Regions from separate parts of the Homo sapiens genome. Here regions 1, 2 and 4 are each linked to region 3. The links come from fine-mapping of genetic effects on gene expression. A gene starts in region 3. Each other region holds a variant in brackets. All regions are shown on one strand. Distances are from middle to middle. Region 1 has its middle 8.3 kb from the start of ZNF264. Region 2 holds the start of LOC124904780 (a long non-coding RNA gene). Region 3 holds the start of AURKC (aurora kinase C). Region 4 overlaps ZNF460-AS1 (ZNF460 antisense RNA 1).

What was found. PIP is the estimated chance that this variant, and not a neighbour inherited with it, causes the effect. A credible set is the group of variants that fine-mapping cannot tell apart.
Region 1: its variant is the best candidate, but not a certain one, in a credible set for the expression of AURKC in whole blood (TOPMed, PIP 0.86).
Region 2: its variant is the best candidate, but not a certain one, in a credible set for the expression of AURKC in subcutaneous fat (GTEx, PIP 0.84).
Region 4: its variant is the best candidate, but not a certain one, in a credible set for the expression of AURKC in whole blood (INTERVAL, PIP 0.72).

The regions. Positions count from the first base shown.
Region 1 is chr19:57,179,171-57,187,277 of GRCh38, reverse strand. No RefSeq gene overlaps it. Among named protein-coding and RNA genes, the nearest start is that of ZNF264, 8.3 kb to the left of the region's middle. The variant G/A (reference allele first, on the strand shown) is at 4,325.
Region 2 is chr19:57,168,555-57,176,661 of GRCh38, reverse strand. It overlaps LOC124904780 (a long non-coding RNA gene), which reads right to left and starts at 4,418. Exons shown (of 2, transcript XR_007067355.1): 1 at 4,366-4,418. It also overlaps the pseudogene LOC100132009. RefSeq lists an enhancer at 4,391-4,450 and a silencer at 4,782-4,831. The variant C/T (reference allele first, on the strand shown) is at 4,859.
Region 3 is chr19:57,227,734-57,235,840 of GRCh38, reverse strand. It overlaps AURKC (aurora kinase C), which reads right to left and starts at 4,818. Exons shown (of 7, transcript NM_001015878.2): 1 at 4,535-4,818; 2 at 4,054-4,099; 3 at 3,617-3,808; 4 at 3,161-3,299; 5 at 2,233-2,381; 6 at 783-957; 7 at 293-594. The coding sequence starts at 4,592. The coding sequence ends at 424.
Region 4 is chr19:57,264,459-57,272,565 of GRCh38, reverse strand. ZNF460-AS1 (ZNF460 antisense RNA 1) reads left to right here. Exons shown (of 3, transcript NR_136529.1): 3 at 4,854-5,373. Among named protein-coding and RNA genes, the nearest start is that of ZNF460-AS1, 12 kb to the left of the region's middle. RefSeq lists a silencer at 544-603. The variant C/T (reference allele first, on the strand shown) is at 3,838.

The DNA of each region.
Region 1 (8,107 bases), 49 kb after region 3:
CTAAGGCAGAGGGCAAGGAGTAGGTACAAGGAAGTGTAGGGGAATTTAACATAAACAGGCTTGTTTACTTATGTTAACTAGGAACCAACATTTGATCATTCACGAGTGAGGCTGCCCCCAAAAGGGGGAACAATAATGTTAATTACCCACAGACTGTGTTGGCTCCAGGCTTTTGGCATTATGTCTGTACTGAATAAAAGCAAGCAGTCCCAGCTTATCAAGACTGCTCACTCTTCAGCAGTCCCCTAGCTGCTCTTACACTACATACCTGTGTCTGAGTACTCCTTTCATCCATCGCTCAGCCAGGGTCTACAGGACAGACCCGGCTCTTGAGGCCGGGAGTTAAGAGACTAGCCTGTGCAGCATAGTGAGACCATTCCTCCACAATAATTTTTTTTTTTGAGACAGAGTCTCGGCACTGTCACCCGGGCTGGTGTGTAGTGTTGCAATCTTGGCTCACTGCAACCTCCATCTCCTGGGTTCAAGCAATTCTCCTGCCTCAGCCTCCTGAGTAGGTAGGATTACAGGTGCCCGCCACTGTGCCTGGCTAATTTTTTATATCTTTTAGTAGAGATGGGGTTTCACTGTGTTGGCCAGGCTGGTCTTGAACTCCTGACCTCATAATCCGCCCACCTTGGCCTCCCAAAGTGCTGGGATTACAGGTGTGAGCCACCCACCTTGCCTACAATAAAAATTTTAAAAAAAGATAGAAGAAGAAATGGGCTATGTGATTGCAGGGACAGGCCAGTCCCAAATCTGTAGGCTAGAGTTCAGGCCAGCAGAATTGAAACGTGGATAGGAGCTGAAGGTGCAGTCTTGAGGCAGAATTTCTTCCCCAGGGAACCCTGTTTTTCTCTTAAGGCCTTTCAACTGATTAGATAAGAACCACCTACATTATCAAAATAACTGATTATAGATGTTAACCGTTTCTATGAAATACCTTCATAACAATACCCTGGTCAGTGTTTAATACAATTTCTGGGTAGTACAGCCTAAACAAGTTTACACATATAGTTGGCAATCATACTCTACCCCTTGTCACCTTAAACCATCTTTAATCTTCAAATAAATACAGTAAAAAAGGCTTATTTTGGCCAGGTGTGGTGGCTCACACCTGTAATCCCAGTACTTTGGGAGGCTGAGGTGGGTGGATCACTCGAGGTGAGAAGTTCGAGACCATCCTGGCAAACATGGGGAAGTCTCTACTAAAAATACAAAATTAGCCAGGCGTGGTGGCACACACCTGTAATCCCAGCTAGTCAGGAGGCTGAGGCAGGAGAATCGCTTGAACCCAGGAGGCAGAGATTGAAGTAAGCTGGGATCGGGCCACTGCACTCCAGCCTGGCGACAGAGCGAGACTCCGTTTCAAAAGAAAAAAAAAAAAGATTAAAAAAAATAGAGATGGGGGTCTTAATATGTTGCCCAAGCTGGTCTTGAATTCCTGGCCTCAAGCAATCTTCTCACGTTGGCTTCCCAAAGTGCTGGGATTACAGGCGTGAGCCACAGCACCCAGCCCTGGATATTATATGCTTGCTTGAAAGCCTGTGGCAGGAAATCCACTTCCTACCCCAATCTCCACATGGCTCAGCCCCTCATCTCCCTATAGACTTTGATCTATGTCACATTCTAAATAAGCTGTTTCCTGATCATTCTAATGAAAATTGCAAACAACTCCCCAAACTCTGACACCCTGATCCACCTTACTCTCCTTTTCCTTCTTTTTGTTATAGCACTGGTTAACTTATCATGTCTATTTCTGTATTATAATTATTGTTTATTTCTGACTTTTCATCCAGAATGTTAGCTCCATGAGGGTAAGCGTCAGTGATGATTTTGTTCACTGCTGGATCCTAAGTTTTTTTTTTGTTTGTTTGTTTTTTTAATTGAGACAGGGTCTTGCTCTGTCACCCAGGCTGGAGTGCAGTGGTGCGACCTCAGTTCACTGCAGACTTGATCTCCCAGGCTCAATCGATCCTACCACCTTAGCCTCCCAAGTAGCTGGGACTACATGCAGCTATGCCACCATGCTCGGCTAATTTTTATTTTTATTTTTGTAGATGGGCTTTTGCCATATTGCCCAGGCTGGTCTCAAATTTCTGGGCTCAAGCAATCTGCCCATCTCGGCCTCTCTAAGTGCTGGGATTGCACGTGTGATCCACCATCCCTGGCCTGTATCTCTAGTCTTTTAAACCATGTCTGGCACACAGCAGACACACAAGAGATATCTCAATAAGATCTAATGGAACCCTGGCTCACAATCCTGAAAAATGATGGACTGAAAAACTCTCTCTGGGAAGCCAAGGCAGAAAGATTGCTTGAGGCCAGGAGTTTGAGATCAGCCTGGGTAACATAGTGAGACACCATCTCTACAAAAAAATTAAAAAGTAGCTGGGTATGGTGGTGCACAACTGTCGTCCCAGTAACTCAGGAGGCTGAGGCTGGAGGATCGCTTGAGCTTAGGAGGTTGAGGCTGCTGTGAGCTGTGATGGTGCCACTGTATTCCAGCCTGGGTGACAGAGGGAGACGTTGTCTCAAAAAAAAAAAAAAAAAAGTTGTTAAGAGCTGAGCATGGTGGCTCACACCTGTAATCCTCAAAACTTGGGAAGCTGAGATGGGAAGATCACTTGAACCCAGGAATTTCAGGCTGCAGTGAGCAATGAACCTGCCACTGCACTCCAGCCCAGGCAACAGAGCAAGCCCCCAACTCTTAAAAAATTTTTAAAATAAAAAAAATTGTATTGAAGTTATCTTTGTTACTTTTATATTTTACATGTGTGTTGCTGCTTTGCATAAGCTTATATTTAGGATGTCAAAAGGCTTAAGACAATCTGATTTATTAAATGTGTAAGTCTTACTGGGTTTACGAGAGTAGCTCAAGGGTGTTTTTATTTTATTAAAGGTCACTCTGCTGCCCAGGATGTAGTTGCAGTGGAGTGACCATAGTTTTCTGCAGCCTTGACTTTTTTTTTTTTTTTTTTTTTTTTTTTTGAGATGGAGTCTCTCTCTGTCGCCCAGGCTGGAGTGCAGTGGCGTGATCTTGGCTCACTGCAACCTCTGCCTCCCGGTTCAAGCAATTCTCCTGCCCCACCCTCCCGAGTAGCTAGGATTACAGGCACCTGCCACCATGCCTGGCTAATTTTTTTGTATTTTTAGTAGACACGGGGTTTCACCATGTTGGCCAGGCTGGTCTCGAACTCCTGATCTCATGACTCACCCACCTTGGCCTCCCAAAGTGCTGGGATTACAGGCGTGAGCCACCATGCCCAGCCAACATTTTAGGCCGAAGCAATCCTCCTACCTCACCCTCCCAAGTAGATGTGACTGTGGGTGTGTACCACCATGCCCAGCTAATTTATTTTTTAATTTTTTGTAAAGACAGGTTCTTGCCATGTTGCCCAGTCTGGTCTTGAACTCCTGGGCTCAGGTGATCCTCCCACCTCAGCCTCCCAAAATGTTGGGATTACAGGCATGAGCCACCCACACTTGGCAGCTTAAGAGTTTAAAAACGACATTATAAGACTTTGCAAGAGGCTAGGCGTGGTGGCTCATGCCTATAATCCCAGCACTTTGGGAGGCCAAGGTCAAGGTGAGAGGATCCCTTGAGCCCAGCAGCTCAAGATCATCCTTGGCAACATAGCGAGACCCCATCTCTACAAAAAAAAAAAAAAAAAAAAAAAAAAGAAGAAAAAAGACTTATAAGTCTGTCATGTTAGACGTTTGAAGAGTTGAGAGAATCTATTGTCCTGTTTGTACGACAACTTTGAAATATTTACCAGGACCCACAAATGATATCAGTATTCAGTAAGTAAATTTCAACTATCAAAGGTATAAACCAATTGAACACTGACCCAAAAACAAAGAAGAGTAAATGATTTTAACAGAAAAATACTAAATCTATAAATGATTTTTATGCTTGTTTGTTATCTTTGAGGATTTAAGGAAAAATGATTTTTCTACATAAATTTAATGCTCTCAATATTAATTATAACTCAACTAAGAAACGATGTTTTTCGGCTGGGCATGGTGGCTCACGCCTGTAATCCCAGCACTTTGGGAGGCTGAGGCAGGTGGATCATGAGGTCAGGAGACTGAGACCATCCTGGTTAACATGGTGAAACCCCGTCTCTACTAAAAATACTAAAAAGTAGCCAGGTGTGGTGGCGGGCGCCTGTAGTCCCAGCTACTTGGGAGGCTGAGGTAGGAGAATGGTGTGAACCCAGCAGGCGGAGCTTGCAGTGAGCCAAGATCGCACCACTGCACTCTAGCCTGGGCGACAGAGCGAGACTCCGTTTCAAAAAAAAAAAAAAAAAAAAAAAGAAACGAT[G/A]TTTTTCCCACATCCCCTCAGATCCCAGAAACTCCATTGACATCTGGCAACATAAGAAACACTCAAAACATATGAGCTCAATTTAAAAAATGAGTCTCAGAACTTTTGATTTCTCAATTTTCTCATCTGAAAAAGTAGAGGTAGAAATCTCCACTTTAGGTTGTTTTTAATTTTTCAAATTTTGTATGGAATATTAAATAAAAAGGGCTTGGCACCTGCCTGGAAAATAATAAATGATATTTATATTCCTTGGTGCCTTAAAAGTCTGGGGGTTGGGGGAGGAACAGAGTCCTAGCATCCCCAAATGTGTGTGTCCACCTCCAAAACTGGTGCAGGTACAACTTAAAGCCTCCAAACTTTACAAGCCCTAACAACCTCAAAGACTCAATTGCACTCCTCCTGGAGCATGATGGAGCCAGGCAAGCAATGGGTCAGTGTCATGGTCCAGGGATCATTTAGCAAAATCCAGAGACATTTTTCACTAACATATATTCGGGATGGGAGGTGCTACTGGTGTTGATGGTGTTGTGATACCTCAGTTCTTGTCTTCTTAGTTTAAAAGAACTTAAATAAGAATCACACAGCAAGAGATGGAGCACAGAGTAATTTATTGTAAAGCAAAAAGAATATCTTGAAAATTAGGTGAAAAATAGACAATACACCCTGAGAGAGAGAATTCAGGCTGGGGTGCTCCTAAGGATTAGACAGCAAAGACTGGTGCTGGGGGATTCCCTTTATGGCAGACTTCCATGATTATTCATGAGGAGGTGGGAAAGAGGTGTTACTAGTAACCATGTTCTGGGTGCTCCTCTGGGTGCACATGTGCAGTAGCTGTACACACTTGTTCATACGTCACATGTCTCATTAACATCTTAAATCGCCACCCATGGGTGTGTTTTTTACTTTTTTTTTTGAGATGGAGTTTTGCTCTTGTCGCCCAGGCTGGAGTGCAGTGGCGTGATCTCAGCTCACTGCAACCTCCACCTCCCGGGTTCAAGCAATTCTCCTGCCTCAGCCTCCTGAATAGCTGGGACTACAGGCATGTGCCACCACGCCGGCTAATTTTGTATTTTTAGTAGAGACGGGGTTTCTCCATGTTGGTCAGGCTGATCTCGAACTCCCGACCTCAGGTGATCCGCCCACCTCGGCCTCCCAAAGTGCTGGGATTACAGACGTAAGCCACCATGCCCGGCCTGTTTTTTACTATTATAATGAGCAAAGGGTGTCTGAGGAAAGGTAAAATCAAAGCGCACATGTTCCTACAGGTGAAATTCCCTGCTGAAGAAAGCTTTGCTTGAATGAGCTGAACTACCACTCGAATGCTGAGGCTTATTGTGTTGATTGTATGGACACCCTGGTTGCTGCGTCCCCAGGATATGGTCACTCCTTGACTACCTATCCTGCCTCACTGGTATGTACTAAAAAGAGGCCAGTGATGCTGTTAAAGTTATTAAACTTCACAGGATGTCCCACTGCAACCAAAAATTATCCATCCCATTCTCAATGCCAAGATTGAGAAACTCTGCATTAAAGGAAAGTAACAAGAAAGGATTGGCCGGGTGCGGTGGCTCACACCTGTAATCCCAGCACTTTGGGAGGCCGAGGTGGGCGGACCACCTGAGGTTGGGAGTTCGAGACCAGCCTGGCTAACATGGTGAAACCCCGTCTCTACTAAAAATACAAAAATGAGCCAGGTGTGGTGGCACCTGCCTGTAGTCCTAGCTACTCGGGAGGCTGAGGTAGAAGAATCACTTGAACCTGGGAGGCAGAGGTTGCAGTGAGCCCAGATCATGCCACTGCACTCCAGCCTGGTGACAGAGCAAGACTCCATCTCAAAACAAAAACAAAAACAAAAAAACAAAAAACAAACAAACAAAAAACCCAAAAGGGTTAGGTAAGGAGAAGCAGATCAGAGTTTAGCGCTCTAGGCTACTCAATGGTATCTTTAAAATCTTCCTTCTTTTTCTTTTCTTTTCTTTATTTTATTGTATTTTATTTATTTATTTATTTATTTAGTCACCCAAACTGGAGTGAAGTGGCACAATCATAGCTCACTGCAGCCTCTGCCTCCCAGGCTCAAGCGATCCTCCCACCTCAGCCTGCAGGGTAGCTGGAACTACAGGCGCCTACCACCACACCTGGCCAATTTTTTTGTTGGGGGGTATTTTTTGTAGAGACAGGGTTCTGCCATGTTGCCTAGGCTGGTTTCAAACTCCTAAACTCAGGCAATCCACCTGTCTTGGTCTCCTAGATTTCTGGGATTATAGGCATGAGCCACCGTGTCTGGCTAAAACCTTATTTATTGACATCTTCCACTCTAATTAAACCTGCACATTAGAAACAAATTTCTTTTTCTTTTTTTTTTTTTTTTGAGATGGAGTCTCACTCTGTCCCCCAGGCTGGAGTGCAGTGGCGCGATCTCGGCTCACTGCAAGCTCCGCCTCCTGGGTTCACGCCATTGTCCTGCCTCAGCCTCCCGAGTAGCTGGGACTACAGGCGCCCGCCACCATGCCCAGCTAATTTTTTTTTTTTTTTTAATATTTTTAGTAGAGACCAGGTTTCACTGTGTTAGCCAGGATGGTCTCGATCTCCTGACCTCGTGATCCACGTGCCTCAGCCTCCCAAAGTGCTGGGATTACAGGCATGAGCCACCGCGCCCAGCCAACACATTTATTTTTCTAAACCCATTACTCTCATCTGTCAGATTACTTTTATCGTGTCAGCCCTCCAAACCCATCCAAACTACAGCCAGGACATATCTAAATGTAATGGTTCTACTTTTCTAGTTTCAGTTCTTTCTTACATAGACAAAGACACATGCACAGAGCAACATTGGTATTAGAGGAGCATGGCATCTATATTAGTCTGTTTTCATGCTGCTATGAAGACCTACTCGAGACTGGGTAATTTATAAAGAAAAGAGGTTTGACTCACAGTTCTGCATGGCAAGGGAAGCCTGGGGAAACTTACAATCATGGCGGAAGGTAAAACAGGCACATCTTACATGGTAGCAGGTAAGAAAAGTGAGAGCCAAGTGAAGGGGGAAGCCCCTTATGAAACCATCAGATCTCATGAGAACTCACCATCGTCAGAACAGTACGGGGGAAACCATCCCCATGATTCAATTATCTCCTCCTGGCCCTGCCCTTGCCACATGGGGATTATTACAATTCAAGGTGAGATTTCGGTGGGGACACAGAGCCAAACCATATCACCATCCTTTTTCCAGCATCTGGTTTAATGTGGTGTTTTGACTGGTAGGCCTTCATTTTACTCAATAAGCATTTGGGGATGCAGAGTTTTCCCTGATCACCAAACTTGGCTTTTGTTTGCCCTTTGACTAAGTCTGATGTACTGTTTCTTACACTGTTACTTTGCTACTAATAATGGATATTATGCTATTGTATAAGTCTCCCTTTACAGCTTCATTAAAAAAATTAAAATTGCAGCCGGGCACGGTGGCTCACGCCTGTAATCCCAGCACTTTGGGAGGCCGAGGCGGGCGGATCACGAGGTCAGGAGATCGAGACCACCCTGGCTAACACAGTGAAACCCCGTCTCTACTAAAAATACAAAAAATTAGCCGTGCATGGTGGCGGGCGCCTGTAGTCCCAGCTACTCGGGAGGCTGAGGCAGGAGAATGGCCTGAACCCGGAAGTCGGAGCTTGCAGTGAACCGAGATCACACCACTGCACTCCAGCCTGGGGGACAGAGCGAGACTCTGTCTCAGAAAAAAAAGAAAAAGAAAAAAGAAAAAAAAAGAAAAAGAAAAAATTAAAATTG
Region 2 (8,107 bases), 59 kb after region 3:
GAATGGCGTGAACCCGGGAGGCAGAGCTTGCAGTGAGGCGAGATTGCACCACTGCACTCCAGCGTGTGTGACAGAGCGAGACTCTCTCTCTCAAAAAAAAAAAAAAAAAAAAAAAAAAAAGCCATGTATTTGGTACGCAAGTTCTAGATTTCTGAGAGATGAAGATACTCTCATGGCTGACTGAAAAAGCTTATCATCATCCAGGTCCTTTGGGGGAAAATCTCTTTCCCATTAATTCATTCATTATATCATAGATGATGAAAGATGATCCCTTTGAAGGGTTTCCAGGCTGATAAAACAGCTGAATAATATGGTGATATGTTGCAAGCGAGGGTTCTAGTCTGATGGCTTTCATTTCACATAGAATCTGTAAGGCTGGCAATCTTGCAAGTACATAAAATCTTCGGAGACATTTCAGAATGGTATTAAAAGTCTGTAGATTTGGTTTCACCTTCTGTGCAACCATTTGTCTTAGCAGCTCCAGTATATTATTCCATTCTTCCTCAAATTTCTCATTTATCACCAATACTGTTGCTTCAATCACTGCATTAAATGTGTATACATCAGCACAGAGTCTGTTGTTTAGTAACTCAGTGTACAGGTTTAATGCCTGCTCATAAGCTTGATGCTTCACCATTCCTCGGATCACTGTGCAATAGGAATGTGCATTTTTCCCTGGCATTAGAGAAAACATTCTCTCAGCGTTGTTTTGTGCTCACCAGGTAACTCCAAATTGATCACCAGCTTTCCTCCTAGACCTCTTATTATTTTCCTCTTCCAATTCTTCTGACTGTTCAATTTGTTGAAACTGATAATCAGTTGAGGGCTCCTGGTCACCATAGTAACACAATAAATCCAAGAGACTATATGTTGTTACAAGAGACACAGTGGTTCCTGCTTGCAAAAGCTCATCAAACATGTCCACAGAGACTTTGACTTTTCTGAGCTTGATTCATTCCTTGAGAGTGGCTTCACTTATGTCTTTGATCTGAGGTTCAAAGTACTCAGGCATTAAACACAGTGTATGAGGTTCAGCTATGTCTTTCTGAAAATATTTGGAGTATGAATTAATAATGAACTTGGCCGTATTCTCCCCGGATTTCTTTGCCAGTAAAAATGAACGAGATTCTGAAGAGGATGTTGGTATGAGGTAAGGATTATCTTGAAACACGCAAGGTACAGCCGTGGGAACCCTGTTTACTGTGGATGCAAGAGCCTGAAGAACGGCTACTTTATCCCAAGTTTTCTTTTTTGGAATTACTACTTCTTCAATCCCTGTTATATCAGTTCCTTCAATATTTGAGAGGGTTGCACTTCCAGAATAAAATCTCAGCTGTGTGCTTGTTCACATAGACCTGCTGGCTGACCCGTCAGTGGCTGGTCAAGCCTGCTGCAGAGCCCCAGCCAGCGAACAGCAGCTACAGCCGCCATCTTTGACTTCTCTGCCAAGTGCTCCCACTCTTACACAATCATTCAACATCCCATTTCTGACACCACATCTAAAGCAAAAAAACTAACTGTTCTTTTCTTTCAACTCACTCAAAACAGAACATTTGTGTGACCAAATGAGTGGAGGTTTTTTCATCCATCCCAGTTTTCCAGGAGACACCAGTAGGTGTCCTATAATTCAAATCTGACACTATCTACTTGAAGGAAGTGTCACATCCCATAGGTTGAGGACTAAGTCCCACAGAATTGCCCTTCACTTCAGATGCCAGTCACAATCACCTGGTTGTGGCCTGTGCTTTTGACCAACTACATTAGAATTGGGGTTCCCACAACCCCCTAGAACTCATTTCTAGAATGGCTCATAGAACTCGGGGAAACACTTTGCTTATGTTTACTGTTTTATAATAAAAGATATCACAAAGGATACAAACAAACAGTCAGAAAAGATACACAGGGCAAGGTATGTGAGAAGAGGTGTGGAGCTTCCATGCCCTCTCCAGGAACACTGAATGTGTTCAGCAATCTGGAAAGCTAAAATCTTGTTGTCCAAGAGTTTTTATAGAGCTTCATGTCAAGCCATCCCACCCTTTCCACTTCACAGAGGTTGGTGGGTAGGACTGAAAGTTCCAACTCTCTAATCTTTCTGGTGACCAGCTTCATCTTGAGGCTGTCTAGGGTCTCCACCCTAAGCCATCTCATTGGTATAAACTGAGATGTGATCAAAAAGTCATTAAAAATAACAAAAGACATTTCAACACACAGGAAATTCCAAGGGTTTCAGGAGCTCTGTGATAGAAATAAGAAAGTCAAGCCTACTTGAGTTTGGAGAGGCTAATGCTGGGTAGTGTGAGCACCAATACAATGAGATAAATGGATTATAATGCCGCAGATAAAAATCATCCACTCCATGTGGCTTCTAAAATAATTAACTAACTTAAAATGGATGGGATGGGATGGGCCGGGCGCGGTGGCTCACGCCTGTAATCTCAGCACTTTGGGAGGCTGAGAGGGGTGGATCACCTGAGGTGGGCCGGGCGCGGTGGCTCACGCCTGTAATCTCAACACTTTGGGAGGCCGAGGGGGGTGGATCACCTGAGGTGGGCCCGGCGTGGTGGCTCACGCCTGTAATCTCAACACTTTGGGAGGCTGAGAGGGGTGGATCACCTGAGGTGGGCCGGGCGCGGTGGCTCACGCCTGTAATCTCAACACTTTGGGAGGCCGAGGGGGGTGGATCACCTGAGGTCAGTAGTTTGAGACCAGCCTGGCCAACATGGTGAAACCCCATCTCTACTAAAAAAAAACAAAAACAAAAACAAAAAAAAAACCCAAAAAAAACAAAATTAGCTGGGTGTGGTAGCACACGCCTGTAGTCTCAGCTACTTGGGAAGCTGAGACAGGAGAATCACTTGAAATCGGGAGGCGGAGGCTGCAGTGAGCCTAGATCGCGCAACTGCACTCCAGCCCGGATGACAAGAGTGAGACTCTTTCTCAAAAACAAAAAAAAAGAAAAGAAAAAAGAATGGGATGGGTAAAGTTCTTTACAGGAGTGTCAACTTATAAGTATAAAATGTAAAGAAGTAATAGAAATAGAATCCCCACAAGCAGTGATCACAGATTCAGGGAAGAATCATCAACAGAGGCTAAAACTAGAGGCTGAAGTGGGGGGACTTAATATTATTCAGACATTGCAAAGAATTGACCCACAGATTACTTATTAATTACAAAGAAGAAAGAGTGGAGAGATCTAGTAGATACCATCTTAACCAAGTAGTCAAAATCCAAATCTCCCAAATGGACAAACTGTATACTTAGGTGCCTCCTTATAGGACATAACATCATTGGCAATTCTGGGGCAAAATAAATGTGTTCATTGAATTATTGTTGGAACTTTGGAAAAGGTATACATTTTTCAAAATAAATAACTTGTCCTTCAAATCTCCAATATACTGAATACCTGATATTGGGCAAATTACACGTCTTCCTGGGCCTCAGTTTCCTCACATTAAAAATATGGAGATAATGTTATTACTTGCCTGCTCAATTGTAAGGTTTACAAAAAGAAAATACGTAGTTAATAACTCAGGGCTTGGTAAATGTTTGCTATTTGGAATAAACTGATGGGAGGCTACATGCAATTTCTACTTACCCCTTTAGCATGAAGATACTAAAAAAAAATTGTTTTAATGTTAATACTGGTCAGCTGTGCCTGAATTCCTTTTTTTTTTTTTTTTTTTTTTGAGGCGTAGTCTTGCTCTGGTGCTGAGGCTGGAGTGGCAGTGGCGCGATCTCGGCTCACTGCAACCTCCACCTCCCGGGTTAAAGCAATTCTCCTGCCTCAGCCTCCTGAGTAGTTGGGATACAGGCGCCCGCCACCACGCCTGGCTAATTTTTGTATTTTTAGTAGAGACGGGGTTTCTCCATGTTGGCCAGGCTGGTCTCGAACTCCTGACCTCATGTGATCCACCCACCTCGGCCTCCGAAAGTGCTGGGATTACAGGCATGAGCCACCGCGCCCGACCTGTGCCTGAATTTCAAAGAGAGGAGGGTAAAATGAGGCATGTCCCATCTCCTTCCTATCGCGGCCGAACTAGTGTTTCCGGTTAAGTTTGCCATGCTCTTAGCTGAGAGGAGGGGTCCATTCAGTTGGCTGGGAGCTTAGAATTTGATTTTTAGTTTACAGCTCTGTGATTCACCCGGGAGAGATGCAGAGTTAGGACAACAGGAGAGAAGCGAACCCGGAGAGCAACGCCTCCCAGCACTGCCTGACATCAACCGCTCTGGCAGGGCGACCACGCGGCCGGGGCCCTCCGGAAAGCAGCCTTAATCCCCGCCCGACCGCAGGTCTCGGGCCACGCAGCGCTAACAGCCGCGGGAGGGGGACCCAAACGTCAGCGGTCCCCAAATACAGGACCCTACCTTGCTCTGGCATCTCACCGGCCCTCCCTGCTGCCACTGAGCGCCGCGGAGAGGACGAGCCCGGCGCGCCCCGCCCCCTCGCGCGCCCCGCCCCCTCGCGCGCCCCGCCCCCTCGCGCGCCCCGCCCCCTCGCGCGCCCCGCCCCCTCGCGCGCCCCGCCCCCTCGCGCGCCCCGCCCCCTCGCGCGCCCCGCCCCCTCGCGCGCCCCGCCCCCTCGCGCGCCCCCGCCCCCTCGCACGCCCCCGCCCCCTCGCACGCCCCGCCCCCTCGCGGCCCCCGCCCCCCTCGCGGCCCGCGGCCCCCGCCCCCCGGACCCCCGCTCGCGCTCCCCGGACCCCAGCTCGCGGCCCCGGACCCCCGCTCGCGCCCCCCGGCCCGGGGACGCATTTCCCTTGCCTGCACCCAAGCCGGTAAAAGGGCAGACGTGGCAGCTCAAGGCGCCTGCGCCCAGCAGGTTGCAGGCCCCACTCTCTCAGGGAGACCAACATACTTG[C/T]GGAGCCGCACAGAGAGGTGAAGCTTAAAAGAGGTACCGGTGATGATATCCGGGCTTTTGAGGGCACGGAATTGAAAACTGGAGTGAAACATACAAATAAAAGGAAATAAAAGCTCATCAAGTTTTCTTTGTGTTGCTGATGGTGTAGCACAGGTCAGATACTCGCCCTGCAGAAAAGTCAGGTCAGGAATTTAGGATGCAGGATGACTTCTGATTCTTCCCCAGAGGCACTACCTGTGTGCACTGTTGGCCTCCCTTCTCCACGACTTCACCTGCATTTTTATGTACAATTTTAAAGGTTCTCGATATGGAATTGGAAATGGAATCCTGTGTCTTTTGGTAAACATTTACTAAAAGGCATCACATCTTGTTCTCCGTTTTCAGGAAGTTCACTCCTCCTTGTCAGTACTTTGACTAGACAATTAAAATAAACATAGATCCAATTTAGAAGAATGCTATAAAGATACAAAAAACATAAAAACAAAATATTATTTTAAAATACTGAATTAAGAAAACACTTGCAGGACATAGGACAAATGCAGCATAATATTTAAGTCTCAAAGAAATGTTCTACCTAAGAAAGAAGCAAAGAATCTGAAAGCTAATAAAAGAAAAATAAAATATGGCAAATACATTTGATTAAAAGTGTTCAAGCACGCTAGCGCTCAAATTAAAAATAAAACAATGAGATATTATTTCCAGCTCTAAGATTTATAATGATTGAAAATTTGATGGCTGGGCATGGTAGCTCATGCATTTACTGTCAGAGCACTTTTGGAGCCCTAGGGGGTAAGATCGCTTGAGCCCAGGAGTCGGAGGCTGCAGTGAGCCATGGTTGCACCACTGCATTCCAGCCTGGGCGACAGAGCAAGACCCTCTCAAAACAAATAAATAAATAAATACAATTTAAAAAAGAAAGAAAAATATTTTAAATAACTAAACTGAAACAGGTCAGGGTCACTGGTCTCATTGTCTAAGGTGTTATCTAAGCTCGTGGTCTCATGACCAAGAAAATTAAGGAGCGTGGACACAAACAGTGAGGTTGGATCAAAAATAGAAGCAGAGAGTAAAATGGTGGTTGCCGGGGGCTTGAGTGAAGGGGAAATGGGGAAATGTTGGTCAAGAAGTACAAATTTTCAGTTTTGCAAGATAAGTTTTGGGGATTTAAGGTACATAGTGACGTTATTTGACATGTACATTGTGACATTATGTGACATAGTTAACAAATTAGAAAAAAAAATTTTAAATTGGATGATCAGAAATGAAAAAAACAATACTACTTGACATTTGCTAAGAGGATAGATTTTTATTTTTTGCGACAAGGATAGACCTTAAGTGTTCTTCTGCATGGGGGAGAAAAGGATATTTTTTTTAAAAAGTGTTCTGACCGCACACACACACACACACAAAGGGTATAATTTGAGGTGGTTAATACATCAATCAGCTTGATTTGATTATGGTAACCATATCATATTATATGTGTATATCAAAATTCAAATCGTATATTTAAAATATGTATCTTTTTTGTCAACTGTACCTCAATAAAGCTAAAAAGTAAATACAAGGCCCAGGGCAGTGGATCACACCTGTAATCCTAGCACTTTGGGAGGCCGAGGCAGGTGGATCACCTGAGGTCAGTAGTTCGAGACCAGCCTGGCCAATATGGTGAAACCCCATCTCTACTAAAAATACAAAAAATTAGCCAGACGTGGTGGCAGATGCCTGTAATCCCAGCTACTCAGGAGCCTGAGGCAGGAGAATCACTTGAATCTGGGAGGCAGAGGCTGCAGTGACCTGAGATCACCCCACTGCACTTCAGCCTGGGCAACAAGAGTGAAACACTGTCTCAAAAAAAAAAAAAAGTAAATACAATATTTAATTGGAGTAAATATAATATAATGTAACATATATGCACACACACAAAGGGTGTGGTTTGAGGTGGTAAATACATCAATCAGCTTGATTTGATTATGGTAATTATATCTTTTGTGTATTTCAAAATTCAAACTATATTTAAAATATATATCATTTATATCATTTTTGTCAACTGTACCTCAATAAAGCTAAAAAGTAAATACAATATTTAATTGGAGTAAATATAATATAATGTAATATATATGTACACACACACAAAGGGAGTGGTTTGAGGTGGTAAATACATCAATCAGCTTGATTTGATTATGGTAATTATATCTTTTGTGTATTTCAAAATTCAAACTGTATATTTAAAATATATATCATTTATATCATTTTTGTCAACTGTACCTCAATAAAGCTAAAAAGTAAATACAATATTTAATTGGAGTAAATATAATATAATGTAATATATATGTACACACACACAAAGGGTGTGGTTTGAGGTGGTAAATACATCAATCAGCTTGATTTGATTATGGTAATTATATCTTTTGTGTATTTCAAAATTCAAACTGTATATTTAAAATATATATCATTTATATCATTTTTGTCAACTGTACCTCAATAAAGCTAAAAAGTAAATACAATATTTAATTGGAGTAAATATAATATAATGTAATATATATGTACACACACACAAAGGGTGTGGTTTGAGGTGGTAAATACATCAATCAGCTTGATTTGATTATGGTAATTATATCTTTTGTGTATTTCAAAATTCAAACTGTATATTTAAAATATATATCATTTATATCATTTTTGTTAACTGTACCTCAATAAAGCTAAAAAGTAAATACAATAATTGGAGTAAATATAATATAATGTAATATATATGTACACACACACAAAGGGTGTGGTTTGAGGTGGTAAATACATCAATCAGCTTGATTTGATTATGGTAATTGAATCTGGGATTCAATTATATGTGTATATCAAAATTCAAATTGTATATTTAAATATATATCATTTTTGTCAACTGTACCTCAATAAAGCTAAAAAGTAAATATAATATTTAACTGGAGTAAATATAATATGTAATATATCTGTTATATGGTATATCAAGATTATATTATTAATATTATATATTAATATAATATATTTAATGATAATATAATTATAATGAATATCCAATATTGTGTCAATTAATTTAAAGCACATTTATAATTGTAATACTAATGTTCAAGTAGATGTACATATAATTTACATCAAAATATAAACATCAATATAAACAAACAGCAGAAAATTCTGCTCTAGATTTCCAGACAAATTTGGTGAAAAAATATTGTGATGAAATGTCATATACAGAAAAGAAAAACAATTTATCATTGTTTT
Region 3 (8,107 bases):
TGTATTTTTAGAAGAGACAGGGTTTTACCATGTTGGCCAGGCTGGCCTTGAACTCCTGAACTCAAGTGTTGCGCCTGCCTTGGCCTTCCAAAGTGCTGGAATTACAGGCGTGAGCCACCGTGCCTGACCTGAAAGTAGGCAAGAGTTTTCAGAAGAATGAAGTCACCATCTCCCGAGGTGGAAGGTGGGGGTAGCAGGGAGAACAACCTTGGGCAGCTCTCATGGGAAAGAGTTCCCACAAGAAATAAAGATTCTACCCAGTCACATAATAACTCACACAACTATGAAGAGCTGGTATGAAATGATTCAGCTTTTATTAATTAGCATCTTACATCTTAAAAGAGAAAAAAATAAAGACAAATGAGGTGGCAGAGCCAGGAGAGCTCCCTGAACACACACAAAGGGAACAGAGGCAGACAGGGCTCAGGAAGCCATCTGAGCACAGGGAGGCAGCACCCTTCGGGAGTGGGCCTGAACCCAGGGGTGCTTCAGGATCTGGGCCAGGGGCAGTCTCTCCAAGGGCTGGTATCTGAGAAGCCTGGAAATCAAGTCCCGGGCCCCCAGAGGCATTGATAGTGGAAACCTCACATCTACCTGATGAGGCCAGGAAAGAAGAAAGAGAAGTCTGGTTAATTTCTTTGATCAATGTCCTCCCTCTTCTTTGAGCCTTGTTAAGGCGCTGTTCTGGACCACAGAAGACAACCCTGTGTGTGTGTGTGCCCACAGCCCAGCAGCCATCACTGACCAGCTCCCCCATGAATGCCCAAAGGTGACTGTCCCACCTTGAGGATGCGTCTGTAAGTCTCACTGTGGGAGGCGCTCTCAAAGGGTGGATATCCCACCAGCAGCTCATAGCAGAGCACTCCAATGCACCACAAATCCACCTTTTCATCATATGTTCTCCCCTCAATCATTTCTGGCGGCAAGTAGTCCAGTGTCCCACACATTGTCTTCCTCCTAGAGGAAGGCAGAAAAGGGAATAAGTACTAAGCAGAGGCCCAGGATGAGGGAAATTCTCCTTCCCCAGCTTTCATTGAGATGTGGAGACCCTAGGACACCCTGGAAAGTCCCTCCCAAGCACAGGAGTTTGGAGAGACAAATTTTTAATATGGATCAAGGTTCAGAAAAGTACTGGGGCCTACTATTAATAAATCCATATTTTGGAATTATTCACACAGTGATTTAGCTCATGCTCCAGAATGTTTTCACAAGAATATTCTCAGCATTAAGAAAGATCTAGAACAAACTGATGGTGTATCAATGAGAGCCAAGTAAATAAATTATGGTAAGAAAATTTCTGTATGAAAATCATTCATACAGAAAAATGCACTCCTTTGGAATTGTGGAGCAATGACTTTATTTACATGCAAACTTACTGGTATAGTTATATATTAACAAAGATCAGAAAATAAAAGGTTTGATTGGACCACATTATTTAAATCTACGAATACATATCAAGTATAGGTGTTTGAAAATGGCAGCATTGGCCAGGCATCGTGGCTCATGCCTATGATCCCAGCACTTTGGGAGGCCGAGGCAGGCAGATTACCTGAGGTCAGGAGTTGGAGACCAGCCTGACCAACATGGTGAAACCCGTCTTTACTAAAAATACAAAATCAGCCGGGTGTGATGGCCCATGCCTGTAATCCCAGCTACTTGGGAGGCTGAGGCAGGAGAATCGCTTGAACCTGGGAGGGGGAGGTTGCAGTGAGCCGAGATCACACTATTGCAATCTAGCCTGGGCAACAAGAGCAAAACTCTGTCTCAAAAAAAAAAAAAAAAAAAAAGAAAAGAAAAAGGCAGTAGTTCAGCCAGGCATGGTGGCTGACGCCTGTAATCCCAGCACTTTGGGAAGCCAAGGTGGGCGGATCACCTGAGGTCAGGAGTTCGAGACTAGCCTGGCCAACATAGCAAAACCCTGTCTCTACTAAAAATACAAAAATTAGCCGAGTGTGGTGGCACATGCCTGTTATCCCAGCTACTTGGGAGACTGAGGCAGTAGAACCGCTTTAACCTGGGAGGCCGAGATTGTGCCCCTGCACTCCAGCCTGGGTGAAAGAGTTAGACTCTGTCTCAAAAAAAAAAAGAAAAGAAAAGAAAAGAAAAAGGCAGTATTCCAATAGAAACCCCAAGTTCGTATCTAGGTTTTACACATGGACACATGAAATACATTAAACTGGGTCATTCCTAACTGGTACTCAGAACTCACCCTACCACCACCACCTGACCTACCTCAGGGAGGGGGTGTGCACAGACCAGCCAAAATCTGCAATCTTCACCTCACCCCTGAACCCCAGCAGCAGGTTCTCTGGCTTAATATCTCTGTGAATCACTTTCTTGTCATGGCAGTAGGTCAGGGCATCTGCCAACTCCTCTATTATCTGTGGGTGCAAAGAAAAGTCACCCTGGAAGTGAAGCCTGCCACAATTTCCGTCTGAGGTGGAACACTTACCATGAATTGTATGATTACAGTGGAATCTTTTTGGTCCAGTAACTCCATTTCCTCCTTTTAAATTGCACCAGTTACTGGTGTGTGGGGTGTGGTTTTCCTCTCCTTTTTATGTGGTCTTATAGGATGGATGGTAACATGGACACAGATCCTCCCTGTTGTCCTAGCACAGCAAGTAGCCAGACATAGAACCTACATTGAGCCACTCAGATGATCTCTCACAGGACTTGAGGCCCGAGGAAGTGAAACAGAAACAGGAGGAAAGATGGAAGACCACTCATCCTGACACAGCAAGCTGATTGGACCATTGCTCCTGGGAAAATCATTGCCATGGTTCCCTTTCCGGAACCCTCTAGAAATCTCTTTGTACCTATCTCTAAGCCAGTTCTAGCTATTTATTCAGTGAACTCCTTCAGAGCCTTTCAATATGTTTCTTTACATAAGGCAGTGGAGTTAGATTCTGTTGCTTATAACCAAAGAATCCAAACCTATACGCAGTACTTATTAATATTCTGGAGATACAATGAGGTTAATTAGGGTATCCAAGGATAAAGCTGTAGAACATACGTGCCATTATATTAAATTTACACAATAACATTCAGAAGTAAACTTCTCAGAAGGCAATGCGGACCCTCCTGACAGCCACAAACAGAGCTCCCACCAGCCCACAGTAAACTCAGAGACCCCAGAGCCTCCAGACCCGCACCTCACCGTGGCTGTGCGCTGTTCATCTAATTTCTCGCTTTTCTGCAGCTCCTTGTAGAGCTCACCCCTTGGAGCATATTCCAGAATCAGGTACACCCGGCGTGCATCATGGAAATAGTTATACAGGCGCAGGATATTGGGGTGTCTGAAGGATTAATGTTGGAAGAGTCAGATTTCTCCCTGAGGCCTATCATATGATGCCACCGTCACTGCCTGGTCACACAAGTGGCAAATTATGCTGGGACCAGAATAACAACAGCCCTATCTGGGAGCAAGTGAGGGGAGAACGGAGAACAGGAACCAGGATTCGAGTGTCTGACCCAGGGTAGGAGGTAGTGTAAATGGAATGAACTGCAGAGAAGTCTTCAAGGTACAAGTGCAGGGTTTACTTGGGGTTAGTATTTGGGGAAAATGCTGGGCTCAGACGTCAAAGATGAAAGAGGAAGCAGAGACTGTCCTTACTGTAGATGAGCCTGGATCTCAATTTCCCGGCGCAGCTGGTGCTCCAGTCCTTCCTTCTCTATCTGCGACTTGAAGAGAACCTTCAGGGCCACAATGAAATGGCTTTCCTTGAGCCGAGCCAGGTACACATTCCCAAATTTCCCCTTGCCCAGGGGACGCCCGATTTCAAAGTCATCGACTGTGAGGCGCCGCCTGACAGGAGAGGAAGAAAAAAGCCTCAGCTTGGGAGGTAGGGTAGGCGGAGGGAAAGTCAGGGATGCCAATGCTCCCCTTCCTCTTTCATTGTATCCTTCCTCTGCCGCTTTCCCTTCTCACACAGACCCAGCCCTATCAGTAGTTCTCGTTCCCAGGAGCCAGCACCCCACACACCCAGTCTGTTCTTCATCCCCACGTCCCACCTTCCTTCCTTTTCCAGATACCAATCCCAAGGGACTCACATGGCTGGGCTGCTGGGCTGCTGGGCTGTTTGGTTTGCTGTAGCCACTGAAAGAGAGGAGGAGGAGGGAGATAGGAAGGGAGAGGGGAGGGAAGGAGAAGGGGAGAGAAAGAGAGGAGAGGAGAACAGTAGAGAAGGGAATAGGGAGCGAGAGGTGAGGGGAAGAAGGGGAGGAGAGAAAGAGAGGGAAGGGGAAGGCAGGGAGAGGGGGAGGGAGAGGTAAGGGGAAGAAGAAAGAGTAAGGTAAGGTAGGGAGGGGAGGAGGAGGTGAAGAAGAGGCAGAGAGAAAGGAAGGGGAGGAGAGAGTAGGGGAGGGAGAGGTGAAAGAAAGAATTGGAGGGAAGGGAGGGAGTGGGGAGAAAAGAAGAGCGTTGGGGAGGAGGAGAGGGAGGGGAGATGTCAACACATGTGTCTTCTGTGCACCCGACCCCTGGCCCAGTCCCCAGCCTTCCCTGCGTCCTTTCTCTGGCGCTGGCTCTCACACTCTTCGCCTGCAGGTTGAGCTTTGCCCAGCTGCACCACAGCTCTGGGGGAGCTCATGGGGAGAAGAGGTGAGGGCGCGGACGCCTTCCTGAACCCTCTGGATGGCTGTTCCCGTTCACAGGGTCCTGAAAGGGGTGGGGGGTCACTTTCTGGCCGGGGCGCTTCCAATCCTGCTCGTCCTGCAGCCTCACTGATGTCTCACTGCTACACAGGCTTCGGGATCCGCGGCGTCGTGAGCAGCCGTGGCTGCGCGGCCTTCTTTTATACCCGGCACCAACCGCTCAGAGAGGTACTTCCTGGCTGGCTCCTATTGGCTGAAATTCCTGACGCCATCGGAAGTGCGCCCAATAGAAAGGACAGAAACGGGAGCCTCAGTCCAGGGTTCCCGGGTTGGGGCGGAACTGGAGTGCTGCGGTCCGGGCTGGGCACTGAAAGCGAGGGCCAGGGGTGAGGCCCGAGAAGGAAGGAGACAGAGGGTGCGGAGAGGTGGTGATGGCCGTTGTGGGAATGAACAACGCATACACCCACGGGGTGTGCATGCGTCAACTAGGAGAGAGCCGCGATGCACGTGGGAATGAACAGACGCCCACTCCTGACGTGCTGGAGCCTCGTGCAGCCCGTGACCCTAAACCACTTCGCGCCTTGTGCAGCCGGCGACCCCAAAACCACCTTGCTTCAAGGTCACGTCCGATTCAGGCCACTCTCCAGGGTCACCGCGATGGGGCTCCCTGAAGCCTGCGGCTGTGCCTGCTCACAGCCAGGACGCCACCAGTCCAGCTCACTTACCCCTCTCCTCCCACTCGCCAAATATTTGTTGGACCCTGTAATCAGTTTGTGGATTTGGCCTCAGATCGTAAAATCAGCCCCCACGTATTTGTTTAGCAAACACATAAGTTTCAAAAACATTAAAAATTGAATTCTTTTAGACAGGGAACATATCTTGCAGAAATATAATTGAAGGCCTGGCGTGATGGCTCATGCCTGTAATCCCAGCACTTTGGGAGGCCGAGGCGGGCGGATCACCTGAGGTAGGCAGTTCGAGACCAGCCTGGCCAACAGGGCGAAACCCCGTTTCTACTACAAAAATTAGCCGGGTGTGGTGGCGCATGCCTGTAATCCCACCTACTCAAAAGGCTGAGGCAAGAGAATCGCTTGAACCCTGGAGGCGGAGGTTGCAGTGAGCCAAGATCATGCCACTGCACTCCAGCCTGGGCGACAGAAGGAGAACGAGACTCTGTCTCAAAAAAAACAAAAACAAAAACAAAAAAACCCAAAAACAAAAAAGCTCGTCTCAAAATATTTGGGGAGACCTATTTGAGTAATAAAACTCTGGTCTCTCATTTAGCTCGATTGATGTGAATTAAACCCTTTATTGCAATTATCCTGTCTTGATAAGTCGACTCTATCTGGGGAGCAGGGAAAATAATGAACCCATTAGGTGGTTACAATAGGTGGATCAGGGTAATGGCGCTTAGCTCAGGCCAACCATTCCTTTCTCAGAGGCTTTCCCAAACCTGTCTGTTTGTTTGTTTATTGAGACGGAGTCTTGCTCTGTCACCCAGGCTGGAGTGCAGTGGCTCGAACTCAGCTCATGCAACCTCCGCCTCCTAGGTTCAAACATTTCTCCTGCCTCAGCCTCCTGAGTAGCTGGGATTACAGGCACCTGCCACCATGCCCGGCTAATTTTTGTATTTTTAGTAGAGACAGGGTTTCACCATGTTGGCCAGGCTGGTCTCGAACTCCTGACCTCAGGTGATCCACTCGCCTCGGCTTCCCAAAATACTGGGATCACAGGTGTGAGCCACTGCGCCCAGCTCCAAACTGTCAATTTAAAACAGCCCCCACTACAACGTCATCCTGTTCTGTTTTTCCTTAGGTCACTCATAACCATGTGAAAGTGCTGTTTTATATATGTGTATATTGTTAATTTAATGAGTATCGATTGAGTGCCTATCTTGCAACAGGCACTGCTCTAAAAAATCAGATATGTACATAGCAAAATAATTATGCATTCCTGTACTTGAGGAATTTTTTTTTTTTTTTGAGATGCAGTTTCACTCTGTCGCCCAGGCTGGAGTGCAGTGGTGCGATCTCGGCTCACTGCAACCTCTGCCTCCCAGGTTCAACCAATTCTCCTGCCTCAGACTCCCAAGTAGCTGGGACTACAGGTGCACACCACCACGCCCGGCTAATTTTGGTATTTTTAGTAGAGACAGGGTTTCACCATTTTGGCCAGGCTGGTGTCGAACTCCTGACCACAGATGATCTACCCACCTCAGTCTCCCAAATTGCTGGGATTACAGGCGTGAGCCACTGTCCCTGGCCCTCGGGGACCTTTTAATTCCAACAATCAGTAACTCAAAAAGAACAACCACAACCACAAAAGTAAACAATATAGAAGGTTAGAGGGAGGTAGAGTAGTTGGGAAATGTCTAAAAGACAGTTATATCTGAGCATGGACTTGGAGGAATGGAGCATCTGAGGTAACAGGGTCTCATAGAGAGAGCACCTAAGACAAGGGAATGAAAGCAGGAGGATCCTGTCGTGTTTGGGGAAGTGCAACAAGGTTAGTATGGCTGCAGCTGAAGATAAACTGAATCACAGAGATAGATGGACGTGAATTCTGTAGTGTCCTGGAGGCCACAGTAAGGAGGTCATATTTTTATTTTTAGTTTTGAGACAAAGTCTCACTCTTCCACCCAGGCTGGAGTGCAGTGACACCATCATGGCCCACTACAGCCTCGAACTCCCAGGCTTAAGCAATTCTTCCACCTAAGCCTGCCAAGTAGCTGGGACCACAGGTGCATGCCACCACATCCAGCCAATTTTTAAAAATTTATTCTTTTTAAAGATGGGGTCTCACTATATTTCCCAGGCTGGTCTTGAACTCCTGGGCTCAAGCAGTCCTGCCTCAGCCTCCCAAAGTGCTGGGATTACAGGCGCGAGCCACTGCGCCTGGCCCAAGGATGTTGTAATAGGCTCCCTGTGTATTCTAGAATATACCTGGGATTGTATTTAGTCAGGCAGGGTGTGACAATCAGATACAGAAGTGATTATTATGGAGGAAGTTTATAGTAAGAGATCCCTAGAAACAGGAGGCAGAGCACACCATGCGGGTGGAAGCACCAGAGCAGGTTAGAAAGCAGCAGCAGAGGAGAAAGCAAGGCCCAGAGCCTGCGCTGTGTTTTCCACCAGAAAGGCAAGGCAAGGCAGGGCAGGGGCAGCATAAACAGAATAGGATTTGCTACTGTGAATAATGTTGGCAGGTTTTAGGACACAGGCACTGTCCGCAGCTATCTGATATCTGACCCTAGAATGAATTAGGGCCAACTTCAGGAAAACAACCTCTTGGGGTATCTTGCCTGGTAAGATTTTTATGTCGAAAACCATAAGTAGGTCCTGCTGCACGTTTGACCAGATAATTTATGCTAACAATATGATTCATGGTGGATGCTGGCTTTTGCATGCATGAGGCCCTGGGCCATGCTATATGTTTGTTTTCTGCAAGGGTTGTAGACTGGATATTTATGGTTATTCATGTGGGTTCTGCATTCCTACCTCAATGACCCTTA
Region 4 (8,107 bases), 37 kb before region 3:
CTGACCTCATGTGATCCACCCGCCTTGGCCTCCCAAAGTGCTGGGACTACAGGTGTGAGCCACCGTGTTCGGTCAAGCCTGATAAAAAGCTTTGGAGCAATTTATGCCTCTGGGTATTGTTGAAAGTGGTGTCATTCTGTACTCTCTTCTCAAACCACATCAGTGGTCTATAGTGGAAGAATCAAGAATACCAGGCTCTCTGGTTATGAAGGTAATATATGGGTTCCAACCCTAAAATTCATCTGGAATCTGCTGCTTCCTCTTCATCTCAAGTCTCACTTCATAGGGAATCCTTTCATAACTAGTGTTTGCTCCAGTCAGCTTCTCCTTTCATTCCTTCTCCCTTCATTCCTTTCATTCCTTCTCCTTTCATTCCTTGTAGCTTCTCCTTTCATTCCCTGTAGAATCTGTCTTGTTCTCATGGAGTCAGGAGCAGAAATACATCTCAGGGCCAAAACCATGACTTTCAGTCTTGAACTGGAAGTTTCCCCTGAAGCCATAGGCTGGTTGCTGAGAGAAGAGAAAGGGAAATGGCCTTAACAGCCAGGGGTGACCCCGCAGTCCTACAGTAACAGTCCTACAGTGGTGCCAGGAGACCATGGGGATTTCACAGCATTATTATAAAATCCACTCAACATTCACTCTACAAATACTTCTTAGAGAAGCTGAGGGAAGGCACTTTGCAAGATGATGTAAAAGATACAGTGTTGAGCCAGTGCCACCTGGATTGTAGACATGTGGTCCAGGTAATGAGTCTCAGCTTGTATCAACCATTCCCTTCTCATAGAGGCCTCTCCAGATCTCTTACTCTTTTTTTTTTCTTTTGAGATGGGGTCTTCCTCTGTAACCCAGGCTGCAGTACTGTAGCAGGGTCATAGCTCACTGCAGCCTCCACCTCCCAGGCTCATGTGATCCTCTCACCTCAGCCTCCTGAGTAACTGGGATCACAAGCCCACACCAACACACCCAACTAATTTTTTTTTTATTTTTTGTAGAGATGGGGTCTCACTGTGTTGCCCAGCTCCTCTCAAAACTCCTGGGCTCAAGTGCGGATCTCTTAATCTAAAGTAGCTCCTCCGGCCAGGTGTGGGGTCCTGTAATCCCAACACTTGGAGAAGCCGAGGTAGGAGGAACACTTGAGCCCAGGAGTTCAAGACCAGCCTGGGCAACATAGTGAGACCCCGTCTCTGTGAAAAATTTAAAAATTAGCCAGGCGTGGTGGTGGGTACCTATAGTCCTGGCTACTCGGGAGGCTGAGGGAGGAGGATCACTTGAGCCACGGCGGTTTAGGCTGCAGTGAGCCATGATTGTGCCACTGCATTCCAGCCCGGGCAACAGAGTGAGAGAACCTGTTTGTTTAAAAAATAATAACAATAATAAAAATTTTAAAGTAGTCCCTCACCCCAATATTACTCTGCTCTATTTTTCTTTAGGACATTCATAACCATTTGAAAATATATTTTTATATATTTACTAACTTTTAATTAATTAACTCAACAAGTACTTGACTATCTTGTGATAGGCTCTGCTCTAAACAGTGGAGATACAGAGCTGGGCCTGGTGGGTTTGTTCCTGTAGTCCTAGCTACTCAGGACACTGAAACAGGAGGATCGCTTGAGACCAGGAGTTTGAGACCAGCCTGGGCTATCTAGCGAAACCCTGTTTCTAAACAAAAAAACAAAAAGTCACAATGGAGACACATACATACCACACACACACACACACACACACACACACAAAATAATAATAATCCAAAACTCCTAAACAATATAGAAGGTTAGGAGTGTTGCGGAGATAAGACAAACTAGAGCAGATTAAGAATCAGTGAGAGTGGGATAAAGCCAGTTGTGCAATACAGAGTGGTTGGGACAGGTCTAATAGGACAGTTAGGCCGGGCGTGGTGGCTCATGCCTGTAATCCCAGCACTTTGGGAGGCTGAGGCAGGCAGATCATGAGGTCGGGAGATCGAGACCATCCTGGCTAACATGGTGAAACCCCGTCTCTACTAAAAATACAAAAAATTAGCTGGCCGTGGTGGTGGGCCCCTGTAGTCCCAGCTACTAGGGAGGCTGAGGCAGGAGAATCATTTGAACCCGGGAGGCAGAGGTTGCAGTGAGCCGAGATCACGCCACTGCTCTCCAGCCTGGGCGACAGAGCAAGACTTCGTCTCAAAAGAAAAAAAAAAAGTGATGTTTTAGCATGGACTTGGAGGAATTAAAGACTCATCAAGTGGAGATCTCAGGAAACAGTGTTATCACTCAGAGAAAACACACAGGACAATGGAACTGACAGAGCATCCTGGGTGTTTGTGGAACACCAAGAAGCCTAGTGCGGCTGGAACTGAATGTGCATGGAAGTTGGAGAGATAGATGGAAACAAATTGTGTAGTCTTTTATGCCAGCGTAGAGAGGTTGTAATATGTTCCTGTGTGTTCAAAAATGTACCTGGGGTTTTTTGCAGTATGGTCTGATAAGAAACTCGGACATGCAAATGATTGCCAGGAAGGAAGAACTTTCAACTCACGGAGTTTTAGAAACAGTAGGCAAAACACATCCTGCAGGGCTATGTGAGAAGCACCAGGGTGGTATAAGAAGCAGAAGCAGAGGAGAAAGCAGAGGCCAGATCCTTTATTGTTTTCCACAGGAAAAGAAAGGCAGGGCTGGGTAACCAGAAGAGGATTTGCTGGTTTGAATAAAGTTGGTAGACTTTGGGGTCTAGGAGCTGTCCCTGTCTGCCTAGTACCTGGCCCTGGAGTCATTAGAGCAAAAAAAAAAAAAAAAAAAAAAAATTGTCTCCTGTAGTGTAAGAGCCAGACAGAGGAGATGATTCACATTAGGGTACTCTGGATTTGTTAGTATGCAAATAAAAGGCATGGTTCAGAGTGAGTCATTTGCAATCTCTAAGAATCAGTTAACTCTAAATGGCAAGGTCCCAAATTCCATAGCATCAACAATGCAGAAAATAAGAAAATATAGCTAATACACTGTGAAATGGGTAGCCATCATGGGGTTTTGAGCAGAGCTGTGATGTTATCTGATTTATGTTTTTGTTTGTTTTTTGAGACGGAGTCTTGCCCTGTCGCCAGGCTGGAGTGTGATGGCGTGATCTCGGCTCACTGCAACCTTCTCCTCCTGAGTTCAAGCGATTCTCCCACCTCAGCCTCTGGAGTAGCTGGGATTAGAGGCATGTGCCACCATGCCCGGGTAATTTTTTGTATTTTTAGTAGAGACAGGGTTTCACCGTGTTAGCCAGGATGGTCTCGATCTCCTGACCTCGTGATCCACCCGCCTCAGCCTCCCAAAGTGCTGGGATTACAGGCGTGAGCCACTGTGCCTGGACTGATTTATGTTTTAAAAGGATCACTCTGGGTAGTCTATGGAAATTGGAATATGGGAGGGGCAAGAGGGAGAAGTCCTGTTAGGGAGCTCTGGCTCTTTCCAGATGTGCAAGGTGGAGGATAACTTAAGCCAATGTAGTGAGAGGGGAGGTGGTTTACCACAAAGTACAATTAACAGTAGATCAAGGAGAACAATGAGTAATTGAATTGATACAAATATATGGAAAAGTATGAATGGCTTTATGGGATGGATTGTTGTTTCTAAATCTATCCATTCCCCACACGAGCTGCTCCAGTGGCTCAGCATGTTCATGATGATACTGCTGATATATCTTATATAAATGTTATACTAAATGTAGATGCTCAGTAAATATGATTGTTTTGCTGTAAGAGATTCTAGGCTAGGGCCAGGGCTTTGGTTATACACGAAAGTGTGAACTCATCAGGCTTCAGTTGCTCAGATGCTATACATTCTAAAGAAAGAAATGGCCCTTGATCAG[C/T]TCCAGGAAGACAATCTCTGAGTTTCTGGAATATTTTGCCTGGTAAAAGTAATTTTTAAGCCTGAGTCCATAGGCCTTCATGTATCGATTTGATGAGATAATTTATTCTAAGAACATTGTTACTGAAAAGGGGTCCCAATCCAGACCTCAAGAGGGTTCTTGGATCTTCCACAAAAAAGAATTCGGGGTGAGTCCATAATGAAAGCAAGTTTATTAAGAAAGTAAAGGGGCCAGGCGCGGTGGCTCACGCCTGTAATCCTAGCACTTTGGGAGGCCGAGGAGGGTGGATCACCTGAGGTCAGGAGTTTGAGACCAGCCAGGCCATCATGGCAAAACCCCATCTCTACTAAAAACACAAAAATTAGCCGGGCGTGGTGGCACATGCCTGTAATCCCAGCCACTCGAGAGGCTGAGGCAGGAGAATCGCTTGAACCCGGGAAGCAGAGGTTGCAGTGAGCCAAGATCATGCCATTACACTCCAGCCTGGGCAACAGAGCAAGACTCCGTCTCAAAAAAAAAAAAAAAAAAAAGGAATACAAAATGGCTACTCCATAGGCAGAGCAGTAGTTTGGGCTGCTGGACTAAGGCTACTTATAGTTATTTATTGATTATATGCTAAAGGAGGGTTGGATTATTCACGAGTTTCCCAGGAAAGGGGTGAGCAGTTCTCAGAACTGAGGGTTCCTCTCCTTTTTAGACCATATAGGGTAACTTCCTGACATTGCCATGGCATTTGTAAACTGTCATGGTGCTGCTGAGAGTGACTTTTTGCATGCTAATGCATAATTGGGATATAATGGGCAGTGAGGATGACCTTGGTTTTGGCCGTCTTGGTTTTGGTGGGTTTTGGCCGTCTTGGTTTTGGCCGTCTTGGTTTTGGTGGGTTTTGGCCGTCTTGGTTTTGGCCGTCTTGGTTTTGGTGGGTTTTGGCCGTCTTGGTTTTGGCCGTCTTGGTTTTGGTGGGTTTTGGCCGTCTTGGTTTTGGCCAGCTTCTTTACCACAAGCTGTTTTATCAGCAGGGTTTTTGTGAGCAGTGTCTTGCACCAAACTCCTGTCTCCTCCTGTGACTTAGAATGCCTAACTTCCTGGGAATGCAGCACAGGTCTCAGCCTCATTTTGCCCAGCCCCTATTCAAGACGGATTTGCTGTGGTTCAAATGCTTCTGACAATATTCCTCATGGTGAATGCTGGATTTTGCATGCCCGAGGCCCTGGGCCACACTGTATGTTTGCTTTTTGCAAGGGCTGTATGGCTATGACTAGTTATGTGGACCCTGCATTCCTATGTAAATGACCCTCCATAAAAACCCCAGAAATGAATGCTTGAGTGAACTTCCCTGGCTTGTATTATAATACTGTGAACATCTTGTCACACATCTTTGCTGGGGGAATTAAGTGTGTCCCTATGTGACCGTAATGGGAGATAACACCCAGAGTTTTGTGCCTGCTTTCATGTGGACTTCATTCTATGTGATTTTTCCCTTTGGTGATCCTGGTCTATATCCTTTTATTGTAATAAACTATAACCATAACAGCTTTTCTGAGTCTTGTGTGTACTTCTAGCAAATCATGAAGCCTGAGGTAAGTAACCTAAAATATCAAGATGATTAAGGCCATTCATCCACGTATCCATTTAGCAGATATCTGAATATCTACTACTGACTAGGAACTATGTGCATGGAACAATTAGGATAAAATCCATATTAACATCTGTGCTCTTTTGAAGCTGGAAATCTAGTTGGTGAGACAGTCAGGAGTCAGTAATCAAACCTAAATATATATGCATGTGTATGCACACACACACACAGATATTTATGAAAGAATGCTTATGACGTAGCTGGGATGAAGGATAAATATTCACTACTGGACAAAGTGTGTGGTGGAAAAGCCCCATGGCAGGTGGGAAAAGGAAACACAAAGTGAAAACAGAAAGGGCATAAGTTATGCAAGATGAAAGGTAGTAAATGAGGCACCTCCCAGACCAGATAAAGCTCAGATAAAGCCCAAAGGATTGACCGTGTAATGATTTGGGAGTTGTTTTTAGAGATGAGGTCTCACTTTGTTGCCCAGGCTGGTCTCAAATACCTGGGCTCAAGCAATCCTCCTACCTTGGCCTCCCAAAGTGCTGAGATTACAGTTGTGAACTACCACACCTGGCCATATTTGGTTTTTATCCCAAGAGTTGAAGCCATAAAAAGTTTTCAGGAAACGTAGTGGGGGCAGAGGGAGGGCGAAGCAGAGCACTATTAAATCTGAGATGGTTCTCTGGTTTCAGCTTAGAGAATGGATTGAAGAGAAAATGTGGGTAAAAGGACACTAATTGAGATGATAGATGGTGAGTGGATGGACTAGGAAGAGGTGGTAGAGAGAAGTGGACATACTTGAGAGATATTTAAGAATTAAAAATGATGGGGCCGGGGCAGTGGCTCACACCTGTAATCCCAGCACTTTGGGAGGCCAAGGCAGGCAGATCACAAGGTCAGGAGATTGAGACCATTCTGGCCAACGTGGTGAAACCCCGTCTCTACTAAAAATACAAAAATTAGCTGGGTGTGGTGGCATGCACCTATAATCCCAGCTACTCAGGAGGCTGAGGCAGGAGAATTGCTTGAACCCAGGAGGCGGAGGTTGCAGTGAGCCGAGTTCGCACCACTGCTCCAGCCTGGGGACAGAACGAGATTCTGTGTTAAAAAAAAAACAAACAAAAAAACACAACTTTCTGATTGTACATGAAGGAGGAAGAGATTGAGGTAACTATGCTGAGTTGGAAATTTCTAGCCAACGTAACTAAACAGTGCCATGTAGTAAAGAGGGAAGACTGAAGTAGATCAGAGTCAGGGAGAAGCATTTTATTGATCTTATTTACATCAGGTGAAGAATGAGGTATCTTTGAAACATCTATGTGAAGATAGCAAGAAGATAACTGGTAATTCAGGTCCAGAGCTGTAAGGATTGCTCAAGACTGGGGTATTCTATTTTCAATGCCTTTAAAGTAAGGGAGGTAACTGAAGCCAAGGGCACAGATGAGGCTGGGGAGAGGCCATACAAGGCAAAAGAGCCTTGGACAAAACCTTTAGGTATTTCAACATTGAGTGGGCAGCTAGATATGGATGACTGCACAAAGAAGGGAGAGAGGGAGGGAACGAATGAGGAAAAAGATGTTACAGAGCCAAGGAAAGAGAACATATTTCACGAATTGAGTATTAGACACAATAAAATTCTACTGATGGCCCAAGAATGACAAGGACTTGTGATTTATAAGCACCAAGTCACTTCTGACCTTAGTCACAATGTCGGAGAAGGTGGCATTGTAGCAAGGAGTTCCACAAAGAGTAGAGGTTTGGGAAGTGGAGAGAAATCAAGAAAGAGGTAATGGAGAAGTGAAAATATTACACAAAAAAGGAAAACATCCCTAAGAGGCTCCTCTATTAAAGGAGGAGAGGGAGGAAAGGACAAATAATCAAGTTGGAGAAACCCATACACACACAGGAAAGACCAGACTGGTGGTGACTGACACTCAAGCAGAAGTCAGTTATGCAAAGATAACTTAGAAAGTGTAAGTGACAAAAGAACATGCAGATGAAAAACAGGCTTGTAGGTGGCCATGATGACATCGAAGGCAAATGTCAGGAGGAAACTCAAGATTGCAAAGAAAGTGACCACTGCTTATGTGTGATTCCAGGGATCAACAAGAGACAGAGTGAGAAGGGACCACTTCAAACACGTGTCATTTTACCCAAGAGCAGGGACATGGAATGGCACTGGGAAGGGCAAACAGGTATGTTGAGAGGCTATACAACTGCAATGCCGTAGATCATAAGAAAAGAGAGTTAATGCAGATGCCTGAGAATATCAAGCAAACAAATGGGCCGGGCGCGGTGGCTCACGCCTGTAATCCCAGCACTTTGGGAGGCTGAGGTGGGCAGATCACTTGAGGTCAGGAGTTTGAGACCAGCCTCGATATGGAGAAACCCCATCTCTCCTAAAAATACAAAATTAGCCAGGCATGGTGGTGCATGCCTGTGATCTCAGCTACTCGGGAGGCTGAGACAGAATTGCTTGAACCTGGGAGGCAGAGGTTGCGGTGAGCCGAGATTGCGCCATTGCACTCCAGCCTGGGCAACAAGAGCAAAACTCCATCTCAAAAAAAGAAAAAAGAAAAAAAAAAAAAAAAGAACAAATGATGTAGGTAGGACTGGGAAATAATATACAGAAAGACAAACTTCAAACTTCAAACAGCTTGGAGAAATGACAGAATAATGTTTGTATAT